Homo sapiens: one gene and its partner. The protein of the gene in region 1 interacts with the protein of each later gene in a pairwise test. Each region holds a gene or a part of one and is shown on either strand. Other genes may lie near its edges.

Region 1 (3,500 bases):
CAGCTATCCACTAAGAAGGGCTCTGGTGCTGATGTACCTGGACAGAACTGTCCCAGGTCTTGGTTCCCCGAGTCACAGAATGTCAGAGGTAGAAGGAATCCAGCAGCAGCTCAGAGCAGAGGGGCGACTTACACAAAGTCCCAGCCTCATTCTGCTGACACCCACATCTCCCCACAGGGTGCTGAGCCATTGTGGAAACTGCCACGCCTGCTCCAGCAGGTCCTGGCCTCTTGAAGAGGAGCGAGGAGCTGGGGGCAAGCACATCAAGAGCTGCCCCCCGCCACCACTCCGAGATGCTTAGGGCCACGTGACTCTGTGCATGCCCCTGAACCTCTCTGGGTCAGTCTACAGCCTGGGAGCTAGAACCACAGCTGTACGGCTTCTGCTCTGCCTCCCTCTCAGAATTGCCTTGAGGATCCACTGAATTCATGGAGGAGGAGAAAGGGCTTTGAGGAGTGTACAGCGCTGCAGAACCCAAGCCCACCCGCTGGTCATGTGAGCCACAGCTCCATGTCCCCTGGGTTATGCCAATATTCCTTACAACTGAAGAAAGGAGAGCGGACATGGGGTGGAGTGGGCGTGGGGTGGATATCGGTTTATCCAATTTTACAGAGGAGGACATGAACTCTAAAAGAAGGTGACAGCCCCAAGGCAGGCAGGTGGGAAGCGGCAGAGTCAGGCTGCTGACTTCAAATCCCACCTTTCCTCCACTCCCTCCAGCAGCTGCTTCTCTCCTTGCTGAGTAGAAAGGTCAGCACATCTAAAAAGGAGGTGCACAGCAGTCCTGCCCACCAGGCTGAGATGTGTGAAGCAAAATGGACAGCTAGCCGTAACCAGCTCTTTTTCATGGAGGCTTATGTGCTAATCCTGTTACCTAAGTCCTATCAGTTAATCCTCAGAGCGACTTTATTTGAGAGTGATAAAATTATCTCCATCTTAGGATGATGAAACTGAAGCTTGGAGATATCAAGTAACCCACCCAGGATGGCACAGCTTCCATGCGGCAAAGCAAATTCCGACCTAGCTAGCTGCCTCCAGAATCATGCTCTGAGCCATCAGGGAGGATGGAAGAGAAGAAGGCTGAGCCCCAGGCAGTTGGCATCCTCAGACAAGGCAAAAGAAGAGCGGATAGTTCTGAGAAAAGGAGGCACTAGACCCCACCCCGCCTGCCTCACAGGACAGTGACAATGATCCCAGTGAAGGTGCTTTATAAATTGGGAAAGTGAAGAAAGAGGCATGTTATGCAGAGAATTCAGCTCTCCAGGGAGGAGTCTGGTTGGTAAAATATCTGTGATCCAGTGGAATTTCCAAAAATTCAGTCCCTTGGACCCAAAACTCTACTGGTCCCCAAGCTCGGCATCCTTCCCCCAGCCAGCTTCTGTCCCCACCTAGCATGCAAGCCCCTCGCAGCCCACCAGGGGGCACCGCACGACACGGGATGGATGACCGACGCATAGGCTCTGCTCCCGGAGCCCCTGCACACCATTGACCACAGGGGCTTTTTTCTGCCGCCCTGCAGAGCAGAGGGATGGAGGGGGCAGTTCTGAAACTCATACCTTCTTTCCCGGACATGTTCCTCTACCGCTACCAATTTCTTTTGTGCCTTCGCTATGTACCAGGTACCGTGCTAAGTTCTTCACACACATTATCTGATTACATCCTCACCAAATCGTTGAGGTAGGTACTATAATCTCCACTTTGCAAATGGGGAAACGGAGGCTTAGAGAGTTTAGGTAACTTGCCAAGGATTAAAGATCCGGTAATTGTCAGAGCTGGGATTAAAATCAAGCCAGGCCCATCTGACTTCAGGGCCTCTGCACTTACTCCAGCCCCTACTTGTGCCTGATCATGGTATACCCACACTGCTCCTGGGCCTCTCAATAGTGGTCCGTCATCCCATAGGCACTGCCTGCCTGGAAACTGTGGGCTTCCCCACTCAGGTTGCTGGTGGCACCCTCACCCCCTGCAACACCTCTACTCCTGCCCACGCTGCCCCCAGGCTGGTCTGCTCCCCCTCTTCCCCAGACTCCCCCACTGGCCACTCCCTTGGCTTCACCAGGCAACCAAGACTGGCCTGCTCACACAAGGCGACATCTTCAAACACACTGGGGTCCTTCTCCTGGAGGGGACAGCAGTCTGGCCCAGGAATCCTGAGGCTGGGCCAAGCGCCAGCAGTGGTGGTACCTCACATGTACCCTTGAGCAAATCGCTACTCCTCTCTGGGCTAGCCTTGACTCCTAGACTGCAAAATGGACTAGAGGACCCACAGAGCCTTCTAGCTCTGGGCTGCTTGGGTCCAGAGCAGTGTGTCCTGTGGTGTGTGTTGAAATGGAGAGTGGGGACACAGGAATCCTTTCTGCCTCTGCATAGGCTTTAAGTCTACTCAGCCTCCACTTCACCCCACCCCATTGATTAATCCTACATACCCTCTTCCTCTTATCTCAATGTTCTACTCTCCCTCACTCCATCACACTCATACACACACATATGCAGACACATGCACAGACATACACAGACATATGCACAATGCATGCACACATGTGTATAGACATGCACACATAGCCATACTTAAAGACATAAGTGTAGACCATGTACAAACAGACACAGACATGAACACAGACAGGTGCACACTCAGGCCTACCCACAGAGACATGCACAAACAGACATGTGTATATACATTCAGAGACATGTCACAGACACGGGCTTTCTGGCCAGACTTTCCATAGTCCTACCTTTGAGGTGAGAGGTTCAAGAGGGTGTATTGGGCCAAGAAGAATGACAGTTGCACTCCAAAGCACCCTAGGGGCCTCTGTGGGCAAAGCTATGAGGATAACTGAAACTAACACTTGTCTGCAGCTGAGCCTGGATTGAGGAGGAACATCCAGATGACCAGGGATCCCTAAATCTACATTCTACTTCAGTTTTCTCTGGATGCTTCTGTCAGGTCCTGTATGTCAGCTGGGACTGGCAGACACCTGGTGCCTGGAAAGGCTTCAGAGGAAGGCTAGGAGGAGTCCCTGAGCTCGGTGGATCTGAGCTCACCACACTCAGCCATTGCTTGGCTTCCGTGTGCTGTGCAGACCAGAACTACTAGCACGGGAAGGGGGCCGAAGGCAGGGGCAGTACAGAGCATCATCGCTTAGCCCAGGAGTGCCCCTGGTATGCCTGGGGTCTACATTGACACTGGATGGTCTCTTCCCGACATTGGCCATCTGACTGTGCTCTGCGAAAGGACCACAAATTCCAAGCGTGTCAGAGCATAATGTCACCGGAAGGGGCAACCCCCCCATCCATTCATTCCTTCACTTATTCATTCATCTAACAAGGACTTAATGAATTACCAGGTGCCATGTACGGTGCTAGAGGTTAGGAATTGAGAGAGAGAATCCTTTTGGCTTCAAGGGGTAATCGGAAGAGTAAACTGCAACACAGTGTAAGTTCATCTTACAAAGAAGAATAGTAGTATTGAACTTCTATTGAGTTATTTCAATTTCTCAGGA
Region 2 (3,500 bases), on another chromosome or scaffold:
CAGGTCTGGGGTGGAGCCCAAGAATTCGCACTTCTAACAAGCTCCCATGTGGCACTGATGTTCCTGGTCAGGAAAATCACACCTCGAGAACCATTTTACTAGATCATTCCTATAACCAGGTGAATTTGGAAGAAATCACCACTGTAGCAAATTTCTCTGAAGCTGTCATTGGAATGACGTATTATGTTTTTATCTAACCCTGTAATTACCCTGATTTAGATGTCACCAATAATTTTCTATGAGTCAGAAATCAGTTTCAAACACATCTCTGTGAGCTCGATACAGAGAGAAATAAAGGAGTCCAATGTGCTGCTCTTTCTTTATCAAGGTAAAAACACTAGTTTAAGCCATGTGGATGCTGCCAAAATGCCTAGAGTGTATACTATAAAGAGTTAATACAATAACAAATCAGGATAAAGAAGCCTATTCAAAGAACACAGACAGCTTTCAATGTCTGTATTCCTGGGTCAGACTCAGGTCTCTGGTATGTCACCACATAGCACCTATTGGAATGAGCAAGAGCTAATTTTTTAAAAGCTGATTTAGACACGCCTATTATTTAGAGATCCAAATTGGGCCACTGGGGCTTTAGGAATGGTACTTCGCAGCTCAGTGCAGCCACTATAAACTCAAGCCGGTTGTATCACTACTTTCCATGAGGAATTTAAGGGGTGTGACTGCATCCTTTCCAACCCTACATTCCACATGTGACAAAACCGATCCAGCTGTTTGTCTGAAAGAAATTCCTCACTGTCCTTAAATATTAAAAAGCAAGTGGATATCCATCCTCAGGGGCAAGTCTCCAGCTGGAACCTGGTACAGGCAGTTGCGAAACAAAGACAGTGCCCTGGAGAACATCTGCTTTTGAATTCTTACCTCGCCATAGGGGGGTTAGCCCCATCTTGCTTTTTGAAATGGCAGATTCTGGATGGAGGGTGATGGCTTGGCCCAAAGCTCTTGAGAAGTGTTCATCCACTACTGACCCAATGTCTCCCTGGAAATAAGTGAAAAGGACACAGCGAGAGTTAAGGTACTCCATCTCGGCAGGCTGGTCTTTCTCCTCCTCCTCCTCCTCCTCATCCTCCTCCTCTTGTTTGCTGGGAAGGGTGACTTCCAGAGAGTCCTGCATCTTGCTGAATACCGCTAACTTCTTCTGGGATGGAATAAACAAAACACAGTATCAAAGACAGTTTGTAGAAAAGCATTCACTAGTTAAGTTTTCACTTTTTTAAAAAAAGAATCTAAATATTAACATATGTTTGCAAACTGATTCTTCTTCATCTGTTTTACTCCATCTTTTTCCTCCCCAAACCAGTTGCCTCCTTCCCACACTAAAAAAAATACAACAAAAACTCTGTGATTCTACATTTGGCAAACGAACATAAAAGCCCATTATCAAATAGTATATTTTCAATACAAGATTTTGTTTTTGCTTTTGTTTTTGTTTTGCTTTTTGTTTTTTCATCTAGCTAGGCCAACAGGAGAATTACTTTTTTAAAAAGTTTTTCTTCCCAGTTTTGGTTTATTTTTAAAAATGCAATGTACAGCAGTGTTATGGTTTAGGACAGAGAGGAATGACTGTCTGGGGGTGGAGTGGAGAAGAAAAGAACTTTTCATAAATAAAATAAACTAAAATAAAAACAGGAATGTAGCATCTTATAAAAGGATTTGGCAGATGTGCTGAACTCATGTCTTCAAAAATCAAACTAAAATGGCAAAATAAGTCTGTGTGAAGATGCATTTTGCATGGAACATATTTTTTAGATGTTCCGTTTACCACCATTATCATGAGGGGAAAAGATTTCATTATGGCTTAGTGAAAATATTACAAAATACTAGTAGTGGGTTAATCTTTCAATTAAAAATGAGAAAGATTTGTTAATTTAAAATGTTTAAAAATATAATTCTAATAATAATATACATTATTTCAGACATGTTTCTAAAACTTTATATTTATCACCTCACTTAATCTTTACAATTCTATAACATGGCTATTAATACTATCCATATTGTAAAGATTAAAAAGCTAAAGCACAGAAAAATTAAGTTACTTGCCAAAAGTCACAAATCATGTAAGCTGCAGAGTCAGAATGCATAAGAAAAACATACAGGTATAGACATGTGTGTGCATATATATGTTCTGAGGAATGGCAGGGAGGGATATCTAGCATATAGATATGCGTGTGCATACATTTGGTGGGGAAAGGCAGGGAGGGATATCTAGAGTAAAAAAATTACAAAAATGTATTTTGTATTGTTTTTCTGTGTAATACGTTTATAGTTAATTGTCATTTTCTTATTTCTGCTTTTCAGTATTTCCAAACATTTTTCACTGAGCACATATTCCATTTATTATCAACTTCAATGCGAATTACATATAAGGAGATAATGCTAAAGATATGAAATGTATTATTCTAGTGACGAAATGAGCTTTCTCTGTCATCTTTATGTCTGCAAAACCTGATCCTTGATCATACCTTTTTTTTTTTTTTACTTTGAAAAAAACGCATGCTGGAAAATGAATGTGAGTAGAAATAGATAAATCACTCCAGAATACCCAGTAATTTTTCAAATGTTAGCAAAATACATACCCCAGACTCTATATTTCTAATGTAATTACTAGCTTCAATATCTATAGCTTCAAATTATAAATGCACCATTCAATAAATTGGTCCCTTTCCCCTAGCAGTGAATATGTTGTTCTTGTATAAGGTGAGTACTGAAATATTCAGAAATACTATGAACTTCTAGTTATCGTTTCAGGATGGTTATTTATAAATATGTGTTTTGCTTTTATTTAAAATTCGTATCAGTATGGTTATGATTTGTTGATGAATAGATAATTCATACTTTGTAAGTGAATGTGCCTTGCTGATGAATAGATGATTGCTTTTATTTCTCATAATCTACCTCTGCACAGATTTGAACATGTTTATATTTAACTTCAATAGTATAAACACCATAGAAACATATGGTATGTGTAAAATGAGGGAATCGAACTAAATAACCTCTAAAACTATTCCTAGTTTTAAATTCCATTAAAAAATTAAATGAATATTATGATTTATTAGTCAAATCACAGTGCTGCTTCTTCGGGTGCATGTGTATTTACCTAAAACATGTATTGTTTTAACCATATGCACACACTCTCTGCTGAATATTCGGGCACATTAGAAAGCAGCTCTGTTTTTCTATGAAAAAAAAAAACCCTAAAACCTATCTACATGGTGGCATCATTGTCCACAAGTGTTCATTCTTATCCGTGAAACTAATTTCTTTTTTCTGTTAATGTCCAGCTCAGCATCAGTTTGTGAGAGTGGGGCTTTGCATATAAATGCTTTATTTGTTTAATTGTAACATTCATTCTTTAAATAGAAGAGCCTGGCTACATTAACAATCCAAATAAAGTCAAAGTTTTATTTTATCCTTAATTGACAGCAATTAATTCTTAGATGAAATAAAATTGAAGTTATATATATGTAAAGGATTTGAAGGCCATG

The links. The genes of interacting proteins can lie anywhere in the genome.
Region 2: the proteins of SMOC1 (region 1) and VGLL3 interact in binary tests that used the Homo sapiens proteins (3 or more experiments, as listed by UniProt).

Annotation. Positions count from the first base shown.
Region 1 is NC_000014.9:70,025,916-70,029,415, reverse strand, and holds part of SMOC1 (SPARC-related modular calcium-binding protein 1 isoform 1 precursor), read right to left. Parts: intron 1-3,500. UniProt on the Homo sapiens protein: Plays essential roles in both eye and limb development. Probable regulator of osteoblast differentiation.
Region 2 is NC_000003.12:86,977,650-86,981,149, forward strand, and holds part of VGLL3 (transcription cofactor vestigial-like protein 3), read right to left. Parts: intron 1,154-3,500; coding exon 877-1,153; intron 1-876. UniProt on the Homo sapiens protein: May act as a specific coactivator for the mammalian TEFs.